Homo sapiens: one gene and its partner. The protein of the gene in region 2 interacts with the protein of the main gene of each other region in a pairwise test. Each region holds a gene or a part of one and is shown on either strand. Other genes may lie near its edges.

Region 1 (12,327 bases), on a different chromosome or scaffold from region 2:
TAGAGTTTGTTCACTCACAAATATCTGAGTATCCTCCCTGTGCAGAATTCTACAGAGGGGTACAGGGATAAATCTTGCTCTTGGACTTACAGGCTACTAAGGGAATATAAGATAGAATAGTAATGTCTTCAGATAAGTGAGGGTAAAAGGCTTTAAGCATTCAGAGAACAATTATTTTAGATGTGAGACATTAGGGAAGACTTCGTGATAGGTGGTATTTGAACTGGCCTTTTAAGGATGGGAGGAAGGACATTCTAAATGGAGGTGACATGACCAAGTCAGGAGACATTATGGGACATGTACAGAAGAGGAGTTCATCCAATTTCGGGAGGGTGGAGTGTGAGAAGGAGAGTAGTGGGTGTTAAGAGTTGGGTCAGGCTTCAAGGAGTCTGGATTTTATTCGGTTGATAATGGGGAGCTGAAGAATTTTGAGCAAAAGAGTGACCTGATTCTAGCTGTGATTTGGGAATACTAATAAGAATTATACTGTGCTTTTTGGGGGGTGTGAGGTTTGGGATATGTTAGAAGGTTTCAAGTGAGATCAAGGAAGAGCCAGTGAGGACCTACCTGATTGGGTGCAGCTGCAGTGGGAAGGGAACAATAGATAAGACCAAGAAACAGTCACAGGATGTGATGCTGTGGGAATGGAGGGACCATTTTTTTTTTTTTTTTTTTTTTTTTGAGACGGAGCCTTGCTCTGTCGCCCAGGCTGGAGTGCAGTGGCGCCATCTCAGCTCACTGCAAGCTCCGCCTCCTGGGTTCAGGCCATTCTCCTGCCTCAGCCTCCCAAGTAGCTGGGACTACAGGCGCCTACCACCACGCCCGGCTAATTTTTTGTATTTTTAGTAGAGACGGGGTTTCATCGTGTTAGCCAGGATGGTCTTGATCTCCTGAGCTCGTGATCCGCCCGCCTCGGCCTCCCAAAGTGCTGGGATTACAGGCGTGAGCCACCGCGCCTGGCCTCAGGAGGGACCATGTCTTACTCCTATCAGCCTCCACAGCTCTCAGCACAGGTGCTTGGCACATAGGTGCTCAGCAAATGTTTGCTGAATGAGAAAGTATAATGGGTGTTCACAGAATAGAGAGCTGGGTGTTGTCTGAAATAGAGAAGGCTTCTATGGAGGAAGTGGGATTTGGCTGTACTTCTGGTCTCCCTCTACTAATGCTTCCGTTCCTAACATCTTTATAATTCTGTGTGGGTCCACCTCCTAATCTAAATTACATTCCTGGCTTGGAGGATGAGGGAGCCACAGGAATTCTGTCTCTGACCTGCCACTATCTCTTGGCTGAGGATGTTCTGGTGGGGACAATGGCACTTGAGTGTGCTGACCTCTTGTTGAGTGACCCTGGGTACTACTTTGGTGGCCCTCAAATTGTGACAACCCTACCTTCTGCAGGTGGAGTCACCCTTGTTACTCCACGGACTGGGCCTCCACTGGATGTTGTCAGTTCACCCAGAGATAATCAGGTCCTGGAAATCTGATCCCCCAAAAAACAAACTCACAAGAGACAGATTAACAATTAAAGATGAATGTAGGCTGAGCGTGGTGGCTGATGCCTGTAATCCCGGCACTTTTGGAGGCCGAGGTGGGTGGATCTCCTGAGGTCAGGAGTTTGAGACCAGCCTGGCCAACATGGTGAAACCCCGTCTCTACTAAAAATACTAAAAATTAGCCTGGCATGGTGGCAGGAACCTGTAATCCCAGCTACTCGGGAGGCTGAGGCAGGAGAATCTCTTGAACCTGGGAGGTGGAGGTTGCAGTGAGCCGAGATCGTGCCATTGCACTTCATCTTGGGCAACAAGAGCGAAACTCCGTCTTAAAAAAAAAAAGCCACCATGTAATTTTAATTTATATCAGAGCTGGCTTGACACCCCGGCTGGTCTGCTCAGAAACCACATTATGGTGCAAAGTGTTCGTTTATTAAATATATTTATAAAATCTGAGCATGGGAATGGGAGGTAGCTGTGGGACCCTGATAAACAGTGCCAAGGTTTTCGAACTGTGATCACCAGACCAATAGAATCAGCATTTCTTGGGAACTAGTTAGAATTGCAAATTCGCATCACTTTCATCCCCTCCTGTTTCAGACCTAGAAATGTTGAGGTTTGTGCCTAGCATCCTGTATTTTTAACAAGAACCCTCAGTGAACATGATGCACACTGAAGTTTGAGTACCACTGACTTAGAGAAACTTTTTTTCTAAAAAACGAAGACTAGCTGTCAAACATTATAGCACTCTTTCCTCAACAGAGCTCATTAAATCCTAGCATTTTTGTCTCCAGCCCATTTTCCTGACCCTTTCTTTCTTTCTTTTTCTTTTTTTTTTTTTTTGAGATGGGGTTTTGCTCTTGTTGCCCAGGCTGGAGTGCAATGGCATGATCTCGGCTTACTGCAACCTCTGCTTCCCGGGTTCAAGCGATTATCCTGCCTCAGCCTCCAGAGTACCTCACCACCACACCCAGCTAATTTTTTGTATTAGTAGAGATGGGGTTTCATCATGTTGGCCAGGCTGGTCTCGAACTCCTGACCTCAGGTGATCCATCCGCCTCAGCCTCCCAAACTGCTGGGATTACAGGCATGAGCCACGGCTCCTGGCCCATTTTCCTGACCCTTTCTGTTTGCATTGGACCTTAACTGTTATTCTATAACGTCACCATTTACTGGTATTTTATAATCCTGAATAGATTGGACTGATCCCTGATAAGATCCTAGGGATGCTCTTAATGTCTTTAGTGCATACTTGCAGTTTGTGTTTTAGATTGGGATAGTTCAACAAGAATTTCCAAAATGAATAATGCCAAATATTTATTTGATTTGTTACCTTAAAGTAACACGTCCTAACCTTTCCGCAAATTTTGGGGTTCACCTTACTTAGGATATCAGTTTGTGTTTTTTCTGATAGTTGACCACGCTTTTGCTTGGCTCAAATATTTGTGAAAATAACTTCTCACCCTCACCCCCCCCCCCCAAAAAAGAAAAAACAAAACCAAAACCAAAAAACCCCAAACAAACCCAAACACAGAAAGAAACAAAACTGCAGATTTCTAGCGGGAAGAGTTTGCCAGCTTGTTGGACAAAGACTGTGAGATGAATGGGAAATGCAGAAAAGACAGAAAACAAAGCTTCAACTGCATACAGCACATTTAGTTCAATATGCCTCAGCACAGGCCGAGGAAAATGGGTCCTGCGGTTTATTCAAGATGCCTCAGGGCCTAAATGAGGGATGGACTGATTCACACTTGCTGTGATCTCAGCCTGGACCAAAGCTACAGAAGGGTCCTCGTGGGTGGCTGAGGACTTTCACCAGGCGGGCCCCGGGAGGAGGAAGGGACCCCAGAGTCCTCAGGAGGGGAGGGCAGGCTTAGGAAAAAAAAAAAAAAAATCCTACCATCTTCACGTTTGTTCTGTCAAATTTAAAAGAGACTTTAAAAACGTTCATGTAAGTTTCCCTGGCTTCTCCCTGGGTACACACGTATCCTTTTTACTTTCCCCAACTCAGTTCTGTGGTGCGTGGGAGGCGCTGCAACAGAGTCTCGGTCCGGACTGGAGCCCCGGCGAGGGCCGACCCCGTTCCCCACGCAGCTTTCCCTCGCGAGGTTTCGCACTTTCCAGCGCGGTTCCTTCCCGCAGCCCTCCCGGCTCCCGCGTGGGACGCAGAGAGAGGTTGGGCGCCGCGCTGGCCCGGGAGTGGCTTACGCCTGACGTAGCCCCGCTGGAGGCCGTGGCACGCCCGCCCTGGCGTCAACTCCCGCGCCCCGGGTGAGGGTGGGTGGCCGCGCCTGGGTCCCGGACGCCGCGGGCGCTGAAGGCCTCGGGAGGGCGCGGGGCGGCGGCCGCGGGCGTGCGGTCCTACGGGCTGCAGGGGGCGCTGTGCGCGTCCTCAAGCTCGGCCGCCGAGCGCAGCTCTTTTTTAAAGGGCCAGCGGGGCACGTGGCTCGGGACGCAGTTCGCTGCCGCCCGGCAGTAGCTCTCAGGTTAGGCGGGTCCCGCTCCGCTTCCGCCGTCGCTGCCGCGCCGCCCCGGGCCCGACAGGCCGGGTCCAGGGACTGCAACCCAGCGAGGGACGCGGGCAGCCATGGCCGAAGCGGCGCCTGCCCGGGTAAGCGCCCTCGGCCCCGCGGACGCCCGGAAGGCCCAGGCCGCCGCCGCGTGAGCCCGCGCGAGGGACTCTGGCCGCGCGAGGCCGCGGGGTGAGAGGGCCTTGCGCGCAGCCTCCGCGCTCGTTGCCCCCGGCCCATCGCCCAGCCCGCGTCGAAGGCATTGACCGGGCGGCCCAAATGCCAGGCCCGGCGGGCGGGGCCCCGACGTCAGCGGCTGACGATCCGGCCCATCTGCGGCCTCAGCCAGGCCGGGCCCCAGAGTCACGCTCGGCGACGAGGAGGCCGCGCCTTAGGAGTATTGTCCCATTTGAGGCCTCGCGGCCCCCCCTACAGCAGGCTGGGCGGGCAGGGGCCGCCAGCCCCACGGGACAGTAGCGGAGGCTGAGATGGGAAGGGACAGGCCCAGGGTCACGCATCTATTAGAGGCGGGAGCCTCACGCCGGGGCAGGGATTTTGGAATTAGACACTTTAAAACGCCTCATATTCTACTTTTGCCAAAGAGAAAGATTGTGTCGTTTACAAGAGAGATAGTAGATTTTTTTAAAAAAGATTACTGTAGCAGATTTTATTTAATTTTTTTTTTTGAGAGGGAGTCTCGCTCTGTTGCGCATGCTGGATGGAGTGCAGTGGCACGATCTCGGCTCACTGCAAGCTCCGCCTCCCGGCTTCAAGGGATTCTCCTGCCTCAGCCTCCCAAGTAGCTGGGACTACAGGCGCCTGCTACCACGCCTGGCTAATTTTTCTATTTTTGGTAGAGACTGGGTTTCACTATGTTGGCCAGGCTGGTCTCGAACCCCTGACCTCGTGATCTGCCCGCCCCGGCCTCCCAAAGTGCTGGGATTACAGACGAGAGCTACCGCGCCCGGCCATTTTAAAATTTTTTAATTAAAAAAGTATATATATATACGTGTGTGTGTGTGTGTGTGTGTGTGTGTGTGTGTGTGTGTATATATATATATATATATATTTTTTTTTTAGACACAGTCTCACTCTCACCCAGGGTGGAGTGTAGTGGCGGGATCTCATCTCACTGCAACCTCTGCCTCTGCCTCCCGGGTTCAAGGTATTCTCCTGCCTCAGCCTCCCAATCCCAAGTAGCTGGGATTACAGGCGCAGGTGCCTGTCTCATTTATATCTATCTATCTATCTGTCCAGATACATATCTATATGAATAAGTTTATTCATAAGAATACACTATAAGTATTCCTATACAGAATTTTTCTCCTGGAGAAGGAAGAATCACATCAGTTTTTTTGGCATCTTCATCTATATAAGTTAGGCCAGTTTAGCAGATTTTAGAATCTTGGTTTGATATAGTGCAGTATGTCCAATTGGGAGATTATAATCCTTTGGCCATTTTTGACATACTGGAAAACGCTTGTAAAGGCTCAATAGATGATACCTACTATTATTAATACACCTCAGTGAAGGTTTTGAAACCTTGATTTTTCTGGATACTTTTATTAAAGTATAACTTCCTCTCCCTCCTCTTAGTGAGTGTGCTGAGCTTCTTTTTGGGTTCCCTGAGTGCAAGGGAGAGAAAAAGCGTTGAGGATTCTGCAGGTTTATAGTCCTGTTCCCTGGGAAGAGGGGGCCCTAGAAGGTGACATCATCCACTCCCCCTAGCCTGGGGCTCACTGCTTCACTACCTTTCAGATCACTCCTGTCCACCTGCTCCTCCCTTCTTGCAGCACTTGAGATCCCAAAAAACTCCCCAAAAGGGACAGATTTGCCCTGGACTCTTGTTAGCCCATCCTATCACACTGTTGTTGTTTATAAGTATTCCTATACAGAATTTTTCTCCTGGAGAAGGAAGAACCACATCAGTTTTTTCTTCATCTTCACTGTACATTTACTATGATAGGTGTTCAGTAATTGTTATTGAATGAATGAAGCAATTATAGATTACTAGTGCTAAGGGGGAGGGGCAGTGAAAATCTCTAGGATGCGTTGTCTATGCTAGAATCTTAAAAACGAGAGAGACTCAGGCATACAGAGGATGCATATTGAGAGCTGATGTGAAGTTGGAGGAGGGCCGGGTGGGTCCTCGGAATCCACAGGAGGCTGGCATGGCTGGAGCACGACAGGAACTGGATGGCTCAAGGTCAAGAGAGGTCGGCTGGGCCATGAAGAAGTCTAGATCTTATGCCAGGTACACTGGGAAGCTATTGAAGAGTTTTAAGCAGGGTACTGAAATGATCTATTTGTGTTTTTAAAAGATTACCAGGCCGGGAGCAGTGGCTCACTGACTCACGCCTGTAATCCCAGCACTTTGGGAGGCTGAGGCGGGCGGATCACAAGGTCAGGAGTTTGAGACCAGCCTGGCCAATATGGTGAAAGCCTGTCTCTACTGAAAATATAAAAATCAGCTGGGTGTGGTGGCGGGCGTCTGTAGTCCCAGCTACTTGGGAGGCTGAGGCAGGAGAATCGCTTGAACTTGGGAGGTGGAGGTTGCAGTGAGCCGAGATTGCGCCACTGTACCCCAGCCTGGGCGACAGAGCAAGACTCCGTCTCAAAAAAAAAAAAAAAAAAAAGATTAACAATTACTCTGTGGAAAGTGTATTGTCGGGGAGAAGCCTGGAAGTAGGGGAGAAGGCTGGAAGTGGGGGAGAAGGCTGGAAGTGGGGGAGAAGGCTGGAAGTGGGGGAGAAGGCTGGAAGTGGGGAAATCAGGTGGGCAGGACCGCAGTGGCCCAGGCCAAGCAAGGTGATGGGAACTTGGACTAGACACTGGCAGTGGAGAAGGAGAAACATGGATGGATTTGAGGTAATTTTGGAAGTTAGGACCTGATGGTGATTTAACCATGAAGGATGAATGAAATTGAGGAGTGAGATGTTGATTTGTCTCTCCAACAAGGCTTTTAGCAGCACCAACCAGGACTGTGCCCATTGCGCATGCACAATGAGGGCTTGTGAATCAGATACCAGGGTAAGCTGAGGCACTTGAGAAGCTTTTTCCAAGGCACTGAAGGACAATGGAATAAAAGAGGTGGAGGTTAAAAAAAAGGCCATATGAACTATTTATACCATATCCCTGAGCTGGAACCATCACCATAATCACTGTCATTGTCTCAGTCTGCTCAGGCTGCCTTGGTTCCCGGCAGGGCTCTTTTCCTGGTTTGCAGACGGCTGCCTTCTCATTGTATCCTCACGTGGCATACAGCAAGATCATCTCCCTTGTGTCTCCTCTTACAAGGGCGCTAATCCTATTTATGAGGGCTCTGCCTTCATGGCCTAATTGCCTCCCAGAAGCTCCACCTCCAAATACCGGCATATTGGGGATTAATGCTTCAGCAGATGGATATTGAGGGAGACACAAGCATTCATTCCATAGCAGTCAGTGTCATCTTAGCCCTGCAACATGGGGCTCATGTTTATTATCTGTGCTGTGCTACACATTGTACTAAGTGCTTTGTACACAGATTTTTCTTAATTCTCTCAGTGCTATTGTATAGGTACTATTATTATCTCCATTTTCTAGATAGGGAAGGGAAGTTGGAAGCTGTTGAAAACACCTTGCCCACAGTTGGCCAGCTTGTAAGTGGCAGAGCTGAGTTGCACCTGGGCTGTCCACTGGGGAGTCATGTTCTCTGTGCCACAAAGCCTTGTCCTTTCATTTTTAGAAGAGGAAACTGAGACCCAAGAAGGGGAGTCACTTGTTTGAGACTGCACGTGGTTGCTCAAGCCTGTGGGGCATGCCCCGTCTCCATAGCTAGCCTGTAGGACAGGAGCCGGGGCTGTTTTTCTTCCACTTTCCCACTTGCTGACACGTTGGTCCAGCCACTATCTCTTGTATCAGTTAGGCTGGATTCCTAACTGATACCCTAGCCTCTCCCTCTCCCCCCCAGTCTGCTGCTAACTCAGGAGCCCAGATGGGACTTTACCATGGCAGGTGTCATTTCCGAAGTGTGTTTTTGAGGTGGAAGTTTTGATTGTATAATTCTCATAACATCTCTCTTTTCTCTTCTTGTGAGCAGGACCCCGAGACAGACAAGCACACAGAGGACCAGAGTCCTTCGACACCCTTGCCCCAGCCAGCTGCTGAGAAGAACTCGTACCTCTACTCCACGGAAATCACACTGTGGACGGTGGTGGCCGCCATTCAGGCCTTGGAGAAGAAGGTGGATTCCTGCCTGACCCGCTTGCTGACTCTGGAGGGGCGCACGGGGACAGCCGAGAAGAAGCTGGCCGACTGCGAGAAGACAGCTGTGGAGTTCGGGAACCAGCTGGAGGGCAAGTGGGCCGTGCTGGGGACCTTGCTGCAGGAGTACGGGCTGCTGCAGAGGCGGCTGGAGAATGTGGAGAACTTGCTGCGCAACAGGAACTTCTGGATCTTGCGGCTGCCCCCGGGCAGCAAGGGGGAGGCCCCCAAGGTAGCACCGGGACACCCTGGGGTGGGGGAGCTCGAGGGGCTGAGCCTGTGAGCGTGTGGGTGAGTGAGTGCGACACTTATGGTTCCAGGTGCCCGTGACCTTCGATGATGTGGCCGTGTATTTCTCTGAGCTGGAGTGGGGCAAGCTGGAGGACTGGCAGAAGGAGCTCTACAAGCACGTGATGAGGGGCAACTACGAGACGCTGGTCTCCCTGGGTAAGGCCACGGAGGGAGGATCTGGGCCTCTGTCCACAGGTTGTCTGTGGACAGTCTGTGTCTTTGCTTTGGCTTTTGGTACTTTGGGCATCTCTGCATCTCTGTGGGCATGTGGGGTCCAGCTCTTCCTCATTTCTTGTTCTGTGCACAGATTATGCAATCTCCAAACCAGACATCCTCACCCGGATAGAGAGGGGAGAGGAGCCTTGTCTTGACCGGTGGGGCCAGGAGAAGGGGAATGAAGTAGAGGTGGGACGTCCAAGGATGATGGGCACTGGTAAGTATAGGAGCCAGATGTGGTTGGGGGGCCGCCAGGGGCTAGCTGCACCATCGCCTACCCTCTCGGGCTTCCCAGACAATCAGGGAGGGCAGGAAGGGAGCATAGACCATTAACCCAAAGTGGGACCACTCTGTACAAGGCCACCCTGGGCAGGAGTGGGTGGCTGGCTTGAGCCATAGGGTTTCTATATCTGTCTAAGGTGGAACATCACACTCACCTTACGTGGTTGTGATGACTGAGTGATAAGTGTTAAGCATGTACATACTGATCACTTTATAATAGTGGAGACTGGCCTGGCGCGGTGGCTCACGCCTGTAATCCCAGCACTTTGGGAGGCTGAGGCGGGCGGATCATGAGGTCAGGAGATCGAGACCATCCTGGTTAACATAGTGAAACCCCTTCTCTAGTAAAAATACAAAAAATTAGCCGGGCGTGGTGGCAGGCGCCTGTAGTCCCAGCTACTCGGGAGGCTGAGGCAGGAGAATGGCGTGAACCCGGGAGGCGGAGTTTGCAATGAGCCGAGATTGCGCCACTGCACTCCAGCCTGGGTGACGGAGCAAGACTTCATCTAAAAAAAAAAATAATGGGGACTTAGTAATACCTCCACCAGCAGCACTGCTGCCTCCTGGCATCTTCACGTGTGTCCATGTCCCCGCTATTGCTTGTGTCCCCTATTGCAGTCCCACAACCCCAGCCTGTGGCAGGAAGGCATGTCACGTGCTGGCTTCCATTTGTGTACATGGCCCTTGGTAGGAGGGCCAGGCATGCCCTGTCCTTGTAGCTGGTATATAGGACAGTGGTTCCAAAGGGGACTGCACATCACAATCCTCTGGGGAGCTTTATTTTTTCAATTAAATTTTAATAAAGTAGAATAGCACAGCGAATCTCCAAATGATCGTCACCAAAACTCAACACTCTGCTGGGTTTTGCCACATGCGCTTCATCCATCTGTTTTTACCCTTTTCCTGAACAATGACCACATACCATGATCACACCCACAGAATATCAGAATATCATCTAATACCATCTAATACCTAGCCTTTGTTTTGTTTTCCCTAGTTGTCTCAAAAATGTTTTCTATGGGTCTTTGGATCCTAATTGTAATACACCCAAGTCCACATTTTACATTTGGTTTACGTCTCTGAAGTATATTAAAAAAACTTATGACAATCCCCCCAGTCTTTTTCAACAGCTTTATTGAGATATAATTCATATACTATATAATTCACCTGTTAAAGTGTACAATTGAGTACTTTTAAAAAAAATTTCAACTTTTAATTTGGATATAGGCATACACCTGCGGGTTTGTTACATGGGTATATTGTGCCCAGGTAGTGAGCATAGTACCCAAGCTTTTCAATCCATTCTCCTCTCTTTCCCTTCCCCCTGTAGTAGTCCACAGTGTCTATTTTTGCCAGGTTTATGTCAATGTGTGCTCATTGTTTAGGTCCCAGTTATAAGTGAGAACATGCAATATTTGGTTTTCTGTTCTTGCATTAGTTCACTTAGGATTATGGCCTTCAGCTTCATGTTGCTGCACAGGACATGATTTCATTCGTTTTTATGGCTATGTAATATTCCATGGTGTATATGTACCACATTTTCTTTATTCAGTCCACCACTGATGGACACCCAGGTTGATTCCATGTCTTTGCTATTGTGAATAACATTGTGATGAACATACGTGTGCATGTATATTTTTGGTATAATGATCTATTTTCCTTTGGGTATATACCCAGTAACAGGATTGCTGGGTCAAATGGTAGTTCTGTTTTAAGTCCCTTGAGAAATCTTCAAACTGCTTTCCACAGTGGCTGAACTAACTTACATTCCCATCAACAGTGTATAGGCATTCCATTTTCTCTACAGCCTCACCAGCATCTGACGGTTTTTGAGTTTTTAATAATTGCCATTCTGACTGGTGTGAGATGGTATCTCATGGTTTTGATTTACATTTCTCTGATGATTAGTGATGGTGAGCATTTTTTCATGTTTGTTGGCCGCTTGCATGTCTTCTTTTAAGAAATGTCTGTTCATGTCCTTTGCCCATTTATTGCTTGTTGATTTAAGTTCCTTATAGATGCTGGATGTTAGACCTTTGTCAGATGCATAGTTTCCAGATATTTTCTCCCATTCTGTAGGTTGTCAGCTTACTCTGTTGGTAGTTTCTTTTGCTCTGCAGAAGCTCTTTAGTTTAATTAGGTCCCACTTGTCAATTTTTGTTTTTGTTGCAGTTGCTTTTGAGGACTTAGCCAAAAATTCTTTGCCAAGGGCAATATCGAGGAGGGTATTTCCTAGGTTTTATTCTAGAATTTTTATAATTTGAGGTCTTACATTTAAATCTTTAATCCATCTTGAGTTACTTTTTGCATATGGTGAAAGGTAAGGGTCTAGCTTCATTCTTCTGCACATGTCTAGCTAGTTACCCTAGCAACATTTTTTTTAAATTTTATTATTATTATACTTTAAGTTTTAGGGTGCATGTGCACAATGTGCAGGTTTGTTACATATGTATACATGTGCCATGTTGGTGTGCTGCACCCATTAACTCGTCACTTAGTATTAGGTATATCTTCTAATGCTATCCCTCCCCCCTCCCCCCACCCCACAACAGTCCCTGGTGTGTGATGTTTCCCTTTCTGTGTCCATGTGTTCTCATTGTTCAGTTCCCACCTATGAGTGAGGGCATGCGGTGTTTGGTTTTTTGTCCTTGCGATAGTTTGCTGAGAATGATGGTTTCCAGCTTCATCCGTGTCCCTACAAAGGACATGAACTCATCATTTTTTATGGCTGCATAGTATTCCATGGTGTATATGTGCCACATTTTCTTAATCCAGTCTATCATTGTTGGACATTTGGGTTGGTTCCAAGTGTTTGCTATTGTGAATAGTGCTGCAATAAACATACGTATGCATGTGTCTTTATAGCAGCATGATTTATAATCCTTTGGGTATATACCCAGTAATGGGATGGCTTACCCCAGCAACATTTATTGAATAGGGAAGGGAGTCTTTTCACCATTGCATTTTTTTTAGTCAGACTACAGGTGCACGCCACCATATCCGGCTAATTTTTGTATTTTTTCGTAAAGACAGAGTTTCACTATATTGCCCAGGCTGGTCTCAAACTCTTGGGCTCAAGCAGTCCACCTACTTTTGCCTCCGAAAATGCTAGTCAGCTTTTTTAGTTACCCTGAGATTCAGTCTGCACTGAAAAGGCAGAATGGATGCTTAATTCTTTCCTTTATCAGTTTCAGAATGAATGAAGAGTTGCTGCCTTAGTAGCCTCCAAAGGTGACCCATGACTTGGGCTTCTTTTTTTTCCTGAGTTAAGTTATTGTGACTTCACAGATAATTGGA
Region 2 (11,653 bases):
AAATGTTTCTTCTAACAACCCCACAATATCACCCCTTACCACAAAATCTTCCTTCAGCTTAATCTCTCACACTCTAGGTTCCCACGCCACCCCTAATCCCGCTCGAAGCAGCCCCGACAGACATCGTCCATTATCTCTCCATACCACCCCCAAAAATTTTCACCGCCCCAACACTTCAACACTATTATGTTTTATTTTCCTTATTAATATAAGAAGAGAGGAATGTCAGGCCTCTGAACCCAAGCTAAGCCATCATATCCCCTATGACCTGCACGTATACATCCAGATAGCCTAAAGTAACTGAAGAATCACAAAAGAAGTGATATTTAAATGGCCTGTTCCTGCCTTAACTGATGACATTCCACCACAAAAGAAGTTAAAATGGCCAGTCCTTACCTTAACTGGTGACACTACCTTGTGAAATTCCTTCTCCTGGCTCATCCTGGCTCAAAAAGCTCCCCCACTGAGCACCTTGTGACCCCCACCCCTGCCCACCAGAGAACAACCCCCCTTTGACTGTAATTTTCCTTTACCTACCCAAATCTTGTAAAACAGCCCCACCCCTATCTCCCTTGGCTGACTCTTTTCGGACTCAGCCCGCCTGCACCCAGGTGAAACAGCCTTGTTGCTCACACAAAGCCTGTTTGGTGGTCTCTTCACAAGGATGCAAATGAAACTCTGTATCATTTTTTATTGTGTTTATTTGATATTCTCTTTTCTTCTTTATTAGTCTAGCTAGCAGTCTATTTCCTTAATTTTTTCAAAAAAAAAAAAAGCCCCTGGATTCAGATTATTTGAAAAGTTTTTTGTGTCTCTGTCTCCTTCAGTTCCACTCTGATGTTACTTTTTTCTTGTCTTCTGCTAGCTCAATCATCCCAGGTCAACATCCCAGGTCAATTCCTGCTGTGCTGGCAGCAGGAATTTCAAGCCAGTGATTCATAGCTTGCTGGGCTCCATGGGAGTGGGACCTGCTGAGCGAGACTACTTGGCTCCCTGGCTTCAGCCTCCTTTCCAGGTAAGTGAACGGTTCTGACTCTCTGGGGTTCCAGGCGCCACCAGGGGATGAAAAAAAAATTTCTGCAGCTGGCTCGGTGTCTGCCCGAACAGCCGCCCAGTTTTGTGCTTGAAACCCAGGGCCCTGGTGGTGTAGGCTCACCATGGAATCTCCTGGTTTGCGGATTGCAAAAGCTATGGGAAAAGCATAGTATCTGGGTGGGATAGCACAGTCCCTCATGGCTTCCCTTGGCTGGGAAAGGGAGGCCTCCTGCTCCTTGCACTTCCCGGGTAAGGTGATGCCCCACCTTGCTTATGCTCGCCCTCCATGGGCTGCACCCACTGTCTAACCAGTCGCAATGAGATAAACAGGATATCTCAGTTGGAAATGCAGAAATCACCCGCCTTCTGCATAGGTCTCACTGGGAGCTGCAGACTGGAGCTGTTCCTATTCGACCATCTTGCCAGAACCCCCAACAAGAATATTTTTAAAACAAAGTAAATACCACCATACTCCTGGAAAAAAAAAATACACTTTTGCTGTCTGCCAAGAAGCAGCAGCATGGGGTTCACAAATAGTTGGATTCCTAGTAAAGATTCTGCCCAGCTGAAAATTGGCTTTGAAAATAATGCGACCAGAAACTTTGGGAGAACAGAACTTTAAGTGGCTCAGATAGCCTTCTTAGAGTTTGGATTACCATTGGTTGTTCTCCTAAAGTGATAAGAAGTTTCTAGAGGAACAGTGTGGAGATCAAAATGGCCTATGATCACCAGAATGCTATATATCCAGCCCCTATGCCCTTTGTGCTGTACTTGCCTATGTGGGTTATAAGGACCCAAGTCCTACAGAGTCAGGAATCACCCTTCCCTTTAAAATCTTCCTTCTTTGACAAAGCCCCGCTCCTACATGACTGCAGGAAATCCAGTTCTTTCCCAAAATATTCCAGAGGATACCAAAGGTAGCTTACATTTTCAACCAACATGGTGCCTCTCTGGTCTGCTTGTTTCCTATGGACCACCACTGGTCCTGAGCCTCTTCTCTCCATAGCTACAAACTTTTTGGGTACCACAAACCATACTTCTCCTTTTATTCCCCAAGAACAGCGAATAACAAAGCTTGAAGATAACAAAAGGGGAGTATGTGACAATAACTTAAAACTGGGAACTAGAGAGCAGCTTCTTTCTACTCCTGGTGTCACCCAAGGGTCCCTTCTGGCTTTTCCCCTGCCGCCTCTGCCCTGCTGCCCCTATGGTGGGGTCCATTCCCTTTTTTTCAGTTGGCATCTCTGGCTGACATGTTCTCCACCCCTAGGCAGCAAAACCAGATTCCTTTATGGCTCTAAAATCTCTGCAGAGGTGTTTGTTTCCTAAAGTTATCTTTTCTATCATTAAGCAAAATAACTGGATTGTGCGCAGCCCCCTGCTGGATCATGTGTCACTAGTACTGGGCCTCCCTACCATTAAGGAACCCAGCACTTTCAAGTTCTCTGATTCTCCATGTGACATGCCCAAGTGAACCAATACCACCACTGCCCCAATCACCCACCCATTCCCAAAAAGTGAAAAATAAGCACACAAACAAGTGACTAGTGTTTAATCTCAGAAACATTTGCATTCAGAGTACGTTCCCTTAGAATTTTCTCCTCTCCACTCCATGAGGAGTGGGCATGTGCTTTATTATATCAACAAGACTAAGAAGCCGCACCCGAGTGGTCCCACTCAAAAAAGAGATTTCTGTTTCTACCTCAAAATGCAGAAACCATTACAGATTAAAAGAGAAACACACACACACACTTTGAGAAACTCGCCCTTCCTCATCTTCAAAGTGTGGGGTATGCATTCCAGATCTCTCAGCCTGATGGACAGCTTGGAAGTGGAAGGGACCAATGTCCAGCAAGTGGACTTTGCCCCATGTCCATTGTGCCTTGTGTCTTCCTAGCCAACTCAGAACTCCTCACATCCAGCCCCCAGACTACCGCTCATGGGCTCAGGCAAAGGTGGGAGTAGCCAGGGTTTGGCACTTGGGAGACACTCAAAAATATTTTTTGGACAAACAAGTGAATGTGAGCCCTGAAACTTTCTAGAGAGTCTCTGTCCCATTGGGTTCAAGCCAGTAAAAAGCCAGAGAAGTGTCTTTCTGTCCCAAACATAAGCAAGAGATGGATGAGTCCTCTGTGCAGAAGTTACTAAACACTCCTTGGTGTGGAGGAGTTTTTTGTTAATGAAACAACATCCAGTTTGTTTGATGAAAGATTAATATGGTCAATGAGCTCAAAGTCATCTTCAGATTAAAGCATTCACTAAAACATGGCTGGGTTAGTTTGCAGCTAAAAGGAATAAATATACTTTATAAAATATGAGTTCCTGGTACTCAGGTTCTGCTTCCAAGGAAGTCTCAACCTAGACCATATAATGAATAGAGACTGAAGGAAGAGGTATTGGGAACTCAACTGATTCTCAGGCAGGGGAGTGTGAGAAGAAATGGGGAAGAGGAACTAGGGATATCAGTTTCATCCTGGTCATGATTCACAGAAATGAGTGCAGAGGGAAGACAAAGTCAGATGCCCAGACTGCAGTGTTGGGGAACAGGAGGCCATTGAGTTTAGATTGCTAAGAAAAGGATGGAGGGTAAAAACATTGAAGAGTTTCAGTGAGAGTCTATTTTCTCCAAATAGGAGAAAAGCTTATGGAGATACCAACAGACCTTATCTGAAACACTCTGAGGGTTCCATCTTGCTCTTTTCCACATTCTTCATATTTTCTAGGTATCTCTGGAGGCATAAGAGAACACTTTTCTAGCTTTTTTGGGTGGTTTCAGCTACCAGCTATCACTACAATCCCCAGCCATAATTTCAGATCTTCCATCCTGTCAACTTTCTTCAAAACACAAAAATAACTCCTTTCTCTCCCTCACTCACACAGTAGAGTTCAATTGATTAAACTTATCAAATTATTTTAAATATTCATCTGAAATCAGTGAGACTAGAAACTTCACATTTTAGGGTAATTATGAGGTACAAAAGCAAGATAAATTGTCTTATCGATGATACTTTTGATAGAAGATTTTTAAACAATAAGGCATAAAGTTGATGTATAATTTTAAAAAGAAAATATTTCTTGGGATATGTGTTTCTAGATTAAGGTACCATGGGCCCTGAATAACGAATCTCAGTTTTTCTTAAGGTCCTCCTCCTCTGAGCTACACTGTGGGTCGAAAAGGGCAGGATTATCATAAATGGAAAGAAGCTAGAGACATTTTAGTTAAATAAAAAGAACATCTGGAAAAAGACATCTTCGTTACTGGAAATATTCAAGCAGAGGTTTCTGGGATGTTTCTGATGGCACTCAAGCATCGGAGACCAAGGTCAGCCTAAGACACAAGCAAGGTCCCATCCTACAAAGAGAGTGAAATTAGATCCGTATATGAAATGCCTAGCACAGTGCCTGGCGCATAAGAGATACACACTAGATACCAGATCCTTCCCATCCTGAGAGTCTGTGGGTCTATGCTCGTATATATTGGATGTATTTCTGGAAGGGTAATTGGATACATTGTAGATTCTTCCAGAAGTTCACAATTTTCTTAATCGGAGCCATTGAGAGAAGGCAAGGGAAGGAAGCATGTTCTTTTTGCTTGTGTCAGTAACTCTTCCTCTAGCTGGAGTTTTCATCACCTTCAGGCAGTTATTGGTTTGGGCTTTATGCTATCCACTACAGCTGAAATAACTGCTCCAGCAGCCTTCGCTCCTTCCATCAGGGCGTGCTCTACCTGCAAAGCACATCAGTTCACAGGACAATCAGTACCAATCCTAGGCTTGCACCCTCCCCTACCTCCACCCCACCATACCCATTCAGCAACCAGCCTGTCTGGAGTCTATTCCCAAGAGAAGAAGCAGTCCATGCTATCTTATATTTTCAAAACTCCTAGAGTGACAAGAGACCAAGAAAAGCCAGGATTGTTGGAGACAGACAACCCCTTCCTCCCTCTGTGCCATTTGGCCCAGGGTCTGCTTCCAGTGTGGGGCTCAGAGGCAAAGGATCTCACAGCACCACAGCCACTGAGGCCCTCATTCTACAAACAGGGGATCCAAGAGCCAGGGAGCGGAACTCACTTGGACAGAGCCATACAGTGAATTCATGTCCAAACTTAGCTCTTGGGTTCTTGGGCCTCATGACTCCTAGGCCCAAGCTTCTTCAGAGGACTTCTTGTAATGCCCTCAGTCCTTGGGGTCTTCATGTGCAAATTCTCACGGGACGGGAGGTTTCTCACACCAGGGCCCACCAAGCCCCGGACACTAGAGAAAAGCCTCACAAGAATGGAGTGCAGGCTGGAGAGGATGCAGAGCAGAGAGGAGGAAGGTGCAGAAAGTAAAGGGCACAGCAGGGAGGCTGCCAATGGTCACTGAGGATGGGCTGGCAAAAGCAGAGACTAACATTGGAATGTGAGCCCAATCTGCTTAGACAACAGAAGAAACATAGAAAAAAAATAGAATAATTATGTTCTTCTTTTAATCCTTAATTTTTTCCATCTCTTTAAAGGGGGATAATAGGTTGGGTGTGGTGGCTCACGCCTGTAATCCCAGCACTTTGGGAGGCTGAGGCGTGTGGGTCACGAGGTCAAGAGATTGAGACCATCCTGACCAACATGGTGAAACCCCATCTCTACTAAAAATACAAAAATTAGCTGGGCATGGTGGCGTGCACCTGGAGTCCCAGCTACTCGGGAGGCTGAAGCAGGAGAACCGCTTGAACCTGGGAGGCAGAGGTTGCAGTGAGCCGAGATCACGCCATCGCACTCCAGTCTGGGTGACAGAGCAAGACTCTGTCTCAAAAAAAAAGGGGAGTAGTGATAATAAATGCTTTCTCTGCTCATCTCATGGAGTTTTAGTAAGGATCACCTATTAACATGAATAGCCCAAGTTTTCACATACATTTAGGATTCAAAGTTATTTCACATGCACTGAACTACATGAATTTATTACTTCTCTATATGGGAGGAAGTGACAGAGCCAAATGCAGTATAGGCCAGGCAGGTAATGTGAGTGAGGCAGGTGGGTGACATACCTACCCCTTATCCCCTGCAAAGCCACAGCATGTCCCTACAGAGTGTCAGCAAGTAGGAATGCCAGCCCAGTGGCCTGATCAATTGTATGTTAAAAAGAAAGCTGAGGGCCAGGCTCAGTGGCTCATGCCTGTAATCTAGCACTTTGGGAGGCCGAGGCGGGTGGATCACCTGAGGTCAGGCATTCAAGACCAGCCTGGCCAACATGGCAAAACCCCATTTCTACTCAAAATACAAAAATTAGCCAGACGTGGTGGCGCACACCTAGTAATCCCAGCTACTTGGGAGACTGAGGCAGGAGAATCGCTTGAACCCAGGAGGCGGAGGTTGCAGTGAGCCGAGATTGCACTACTGCACTCCAACTTGGGCGACAGAGCAAAACTCTGTCTCAAAAAAAAGAGAGAGAGAGAGAAGCTGAGAACCTACATCTTTTTATATAAAATTTCTATATTTTTAAATATTGGCAAGTAATTCAAACAAAAAGTGTGTGTGTGTGTGTGTGTGTGTGTGTGTGTGTGTGTGTGTATCCAAGATGTGGCCCACAAAGTACTAGGTTGCAATTTTATCAACAGAGTATCTGCTTCTGCTTATCCCTGCTTTGTTAAGGAAGAAATGGTCTTTGGCCAGTCACGGTGGCTTACACCTGTAATCCCAGCACTTTGGGAGGTCGAAGTGGAGGATCACTTGAGCCCAGGAGTTCAAGACCAGCCTGGGCAACATAGCAAAACCACCTCTCAACAAAAAAATTAAAATTAACTGGGTGTGGTGATGCACACCTGAAGTCCCAGCTATTCAGGAGGCTAAGGCAGGAGGACGGCCTGAGCCCAGGAGGTTGTGGCTGCAATGAGCCATGATTATGTCATTACACTCCAGCCTAGGTGACAGAGTGAGATCCTGTCTCCAAAGAAAGAGGGGAAAAAAAGAAAAGAAAGAAAAGCTTTCAGAAATATACTGATTTGACCAAGGATACCCCTCTAGTTAATAGTTGAGCTGGGGCTCCAATCGCTGGTCTTACTATTAGCCCAGTGCCTTTTCTACTCCTCCCTGGGTTAATAAAGGTGAAAATACCTCCTGAACCATAAAGTCCTGCAGAAATAGAAGGCCCTACTAGTATAACGAATAATATAATGAAAGCCCTGATTACCATTCTGATCACTAATGAAATGACAAACCCCAAGAAAGCTCTGGAAGAAGCCATCATCAGAGCAAATGGGGTCACACCTGCTGGCTCCGGGGTACGCCATATCTGAGGCCATTGACAAAGTGCTCACAGTTCCCTTCAATCAGGCTGTACTGCACGATCTTGTTGACCATCTTTTTTGTACGCTGGATGATCTTGTCCACCGGCAAGGGCAGGTACGTCCCATCTAGCTTGTTATTGACCTTCCAGGAGCAGCCATGCAGCACATCCTCCAGACGACTGTATTTCACCACGGCCCGATTGCTAAAGATGGAAGTAATGCTGCCCACCTCAAACTCCTCACCTGGAGACCAAAGACAAACAAAGGTTGGGAAATACAAGGAGTAGCAAAGCAGAGCACAGTCTAAGACTCTGAGTAAGCTGCTTCCCCTGGAGTCTCATTGGCACCATCAGTAGAAGGGTGGCAGAAGAGGGGAAGTTGGAATCAAAGAACCGCAGAGAATCAACTTTCCTGAGAAGCCCTTTGCCCTGCGCCTCACTCCCTGCTCTCAACCCGCACAGGAGTCTCTTTCTCATTAAACTCTTGGAGCACCTTCCCATGTGGTCCCAGACTGTGTTGCACTGACCTACCCAAGTCCTAGGATTTGAGTCTCATTTCCTGAGAAGACTTCAGTAATCTTCACAAACATGTAAAGAGCACTCTCTATGTAAGTGTCAGCTCATGGGTAAAAGGCTATCACATACATGATTATGGTGGTTCCATGTCACGCCTCCCTCTGGGCTGCCACAGGGACACAGGGGAAGCCAGCCAAGCAGGGCTCTGAATGGCACCTGCTCCTGCCAGCTTCCACCTACAGCCACTTGACTGACCTCTACTCAAATACGGGGATTCTCATTAAGGGTATGTTTGAAAACAGGGTTCCACAGCTTTGAAAAAAGAAATGTTTGAAAGGTGCTACATTATCATATTCAGCCCTGAGATGAGACAGAGACTGAAAGAGGGTCAGGAACCTGCCCAAAGCTGGGTGGGTAGTCATTTAAAGTAGCACTGCTACAACCATGTTGATATGCGAATGTGTATACCCTTCCCTTTATAAGTTGTCCAAGGGCAAGAAATGCTCCATGATCTTTTCTTACAAATTTGAAGAAAATCTGCTGATTTTATAAAAGCTGGCAATAGATAATTCAGCATTCAGGAGCAGAAATGGCAGAATTCATTTTCAGAGAGCAAGATAGGGGTGGGGGAAGACATAACTGATAAGTATCTCTGTGGTTGTACAAGAGGGAAACTCCTGGACTTAGTCTGGAAAGAAGAGATGAATTTCTACATTCTTTGAGTAGGTTCTGAGACAAGAAGTGGGAAGGGTATGAGTGGATGGGGCAGAGAAGAGAGGCAATGAGAAAGGGGCTCTGCTCCATGGGAACATCCCTGCATGGTGAGAGACTGGGCCAGAGGAAGAGGACAGGACACAGGGATGACAGCTGAGAACAAGTTAGGACCAAAGGCCTTTGGTATAGTGCCCTTCTGTAATTCAACTTTGAACTGGCAATACCTGCACAGGAGACAGCATTCAAAGTGCATTCAATGGTATTCAACAGGGTCTACCTACCCCTTCCTCTCCCAAACCCCAACCCTTATCAGGCCTCATCTCCTGAGATAACCACTGTGACCAGCAGTTCTAGATACCCAATTTTAAGTTGTTTCCCATTTTGCTGTACTCTTCCTCTACTATCATCACCTCCTCCCCCATCAAATCTCCACTAAGATTTAATTAACACAAATTGAATCTCAGCCATATGTTAAGCAGCTGTGAGAAATGAAAAGAGGGCTGTATCTACATTTAGGGTGAAACAGCAAGGAGCATGTTGGAACAGCAGCGAGACAAGGTGAGGACGAAGGTGCCAAAGGTGATCAAGAAGCCAGATGCAGTGTCTGAGGACTATAGAAAACAAATGACGATCAGAACATGTGAGCATCTGCACCCTCCTTGGGGAATCCTCAGAAAGATGAGGATAGATGCTCAACTTTTGTCAATACAAAATGGAGCTCAAGTTCTAAAATGTGTGTATTTAAACAAAGGGCCCTCTAGGAGGTCAGGGAACTTGGGCCACGCTCTTTACACTTGTATCACTCTTAGGCCTGGACACTCATTGGTTTTTGGTGAACAGAGACCAAGCTCTGTCACACAGTAAGCAAAGGTCCAGTCATGCTTCAAGGGGTCCCATTGCTAAAGAATGGCAGTAACTGAGGAACACAGTAATTAACTGTGCTTCTATTTACTTTGCTAACTTCAATATCAGTATTTCAATAGACTATTCACTCTTACTTGGGGGAGCCAGATGGACCACGCAATCATCTTCTACATAGATGGCCCAGTGCTCATAGCCAATTCGAAAAATCTCAATCAGGTCTCCAGGTCTGGGTCTTGGTTTTCCCTATAATGGAAAAATAAAAGATAAATGGCACATGCTCAAGGAACTCCAGAGACCTTGTTTTAGGATCAGGGACAGCTCAGCCTAAAGATCCCCTCAGTGTGGTTCATCACTTCACAGAAACCCAAGCTAAAGAAATTTCTCTTCACACTGAGGACCAAAGAAGTCCCCTCCTCTCCTACCCCACTCACATTACTAAAGCCATCAAGGATACCCGTGCCAGTTATCAATGTATTGCCTCTCAGCTGTGAATGTATCCTCCAATATATACCCTGTGATAGATGACTAAACTTGTTTTAAGCATTTCTTCCTTAAAGCAAGTAAGATGTTAAACCTTCTCAGTAAAGGGTGCTGGCTTTCTCTTGTACTGCAAGACAAAGGGGTTCTCCTGCAGTTTCTGGCTGGGGTGGGCAGGATGATGGTCAGTAGTGTGGGTGTGTGGACATCTAGTAGAGTTCTACCTCAGACCCAGGATCCTCAAGGCCTCCTGCCCCTGCTGGCACCCTGATTCCCTCTGCAGGGCCCCCACGTGACCCACCTGAAGCCCAGAGGGTGCCCCCATCCTCTGCACACCCACACCACCAGTTGCTAATAGCCACTTCAGTCCTGCTTGCCCAGCAAATGCAAACTTCTCTATTATCGTGTGTGTGTGTGTGTGTGTGTGTGTGTGTGTGTGTGTGTGTGAGAGAGAGAGAGAGACAGGTAGAGAGAGAATGAGAATATACATGAATAGGTAGGCATAGAGTTGTACATAAGCATCCATCTTTTTAAAAAATATTTGACCAGAGCTCCAGGTTGCACCTTCACTGCTGTGTTATCATCTCCTAGAGACCCAGCTTCTGTGGCCCTGTGACCTGCAGGTCTTTGGAAATCCATAGCTAAGATGTTAGGACTCCGCTGGAAGCCTAGAAATGGTATTGCTGTCTCTAAGCCAGACCTGATCAACTACCTGGAGCAAAGAAAAGAGCCCTGGAATATGGAGAGACACAAGATGGTAGCGAAACACCCAGTTACATGTTCTCATTTCACCCAAGACCTTTGGCCAAAACAGGGTATAAAAGATTCATTCCCAAAAGTGATACTAAAAAGATATGGAAAATGTGAACATGAGAATTTACAATTAAGGAAAGGCTGTAAAAGTGTGGGTGAGTGCAAAGTGCACAAAGGAGGTCATAATGGACTTAATTAATGTCATTAATGTCGTTAATTTGTCAACTACTCAGAGCAAAATATTTTAATGTAATACATATGTGAAAGTCTCTAGCAAATTTTCGAATTCAAATAGACATAAGACATGGCATACTGGAGAGAAACCTTTCAAATGTAAAGAATACGGCAAATTGGCCAGGTGCAGTGGCTCACACTTTTAATACTAGCATTTTGGGAGGCCAAGGTGAGTGGATCACCTGAGGTCAGGAGTTCAAGACCAGCCTGACCAGCATGGTGAAACCCCATCTCCACTAAAAATACAAAAAAATTAGCCAGGCTTGGTGGCACGCACCTACAGTTCCAGCTATTCAGGAGGCTGAGGCAGGAGAATAGCTTGAACCCAGGAGGTGGAAGTTGCAGTGAGCTAAGATCGCGCCATTGCACTTCAGCCTGGGTGACAGAGCAAGACTCCCATCTCAAAAAAAAAAAAAGAATGTGGCAAATTATTTCACATGCTCTCACACCTAACTCAACATCAGAGAAGTCATACTAGACAGAATTCTTACAGATGTGAATAATGTGGCAAAGCCTTTAACTGGTCTTCAAACCTTAATGAACATAAGAGAATTCACAGTAGAGAGAAACCCTATAAATGTAAAGGATGTGACAAAGCCTTTTAAGTGCATCTCAAGCCTTAGTAAACATAAGATAATTCGTGCTGGAGAAAAACCCTACAAATGCAAAGAATGTGGTAAAGCTTTTAACCAGTCTTCAACTCTTATTATACATAAGAGATTCATACTGGAGAGAAACCCTATGATTGAATATGGCAAAGCATTTTAAAGGTCCGTAAACATAAGATAATTCATACCGGA

Evidence for each region.
Region 1: the proteins of PLAAT5 (region 2) and ZNF783 interact in binary tests that used the Homo sapiens proteins (3 or more experiments, as listed by UniProt).

What each region holds. Positions count from the first base shown.
Region 1 is NC_000007.14:149,258,258-149,270,584, forward strand, and holds the start of ZNF783 (zinc finger protein 783), read left to right. Parts: upstream 1-3,938; 5' UTR 3,939-4,076; coding exon 4,077-4,100; intron 4,101-4,214; exon of another isoform or gene 4,215-6,253; intron 6,254-6,771; exon of another isoform or gene 6,772-6,810; coding exon of another isoform or gene 6,811-6,867; intron 6,868-8,077; coding exon 8,078-8,473; intron 8,474-8,561; coding exon 8,562-8,688; intron 8,689-8,839; coding exon 8,840-8,965; intron 8,966-12,327. UniProt on the Homo sapiens protein: May be involved in transcriptional regulation.
Region 2 is NC_000011.10:63,458,834-63,470,486, forward strand, and holds the end of PLAAT5 (phospholipase A and acyltransferase 5), read right to left. Parts: intron 9,633-11,653; coding exon 9,524-9,632; intron 7,540-9,523; coding exon 7,277-7,539; intron 4,763-7,276; coding exon 4,670-4,762; 3' UTR 2,571-4,669; downstream 1-2,570. UniProt on the Homo sapiens protein: Exhibits both phospholipase A1/2 and acyltransferase activities. Shows phospholipase A1 (PLA1) and A2 (PLA2) activity, catalyzing the calcium-independent release of fatty acids from the sn-1 or sn-2 position of glycerophospholipids.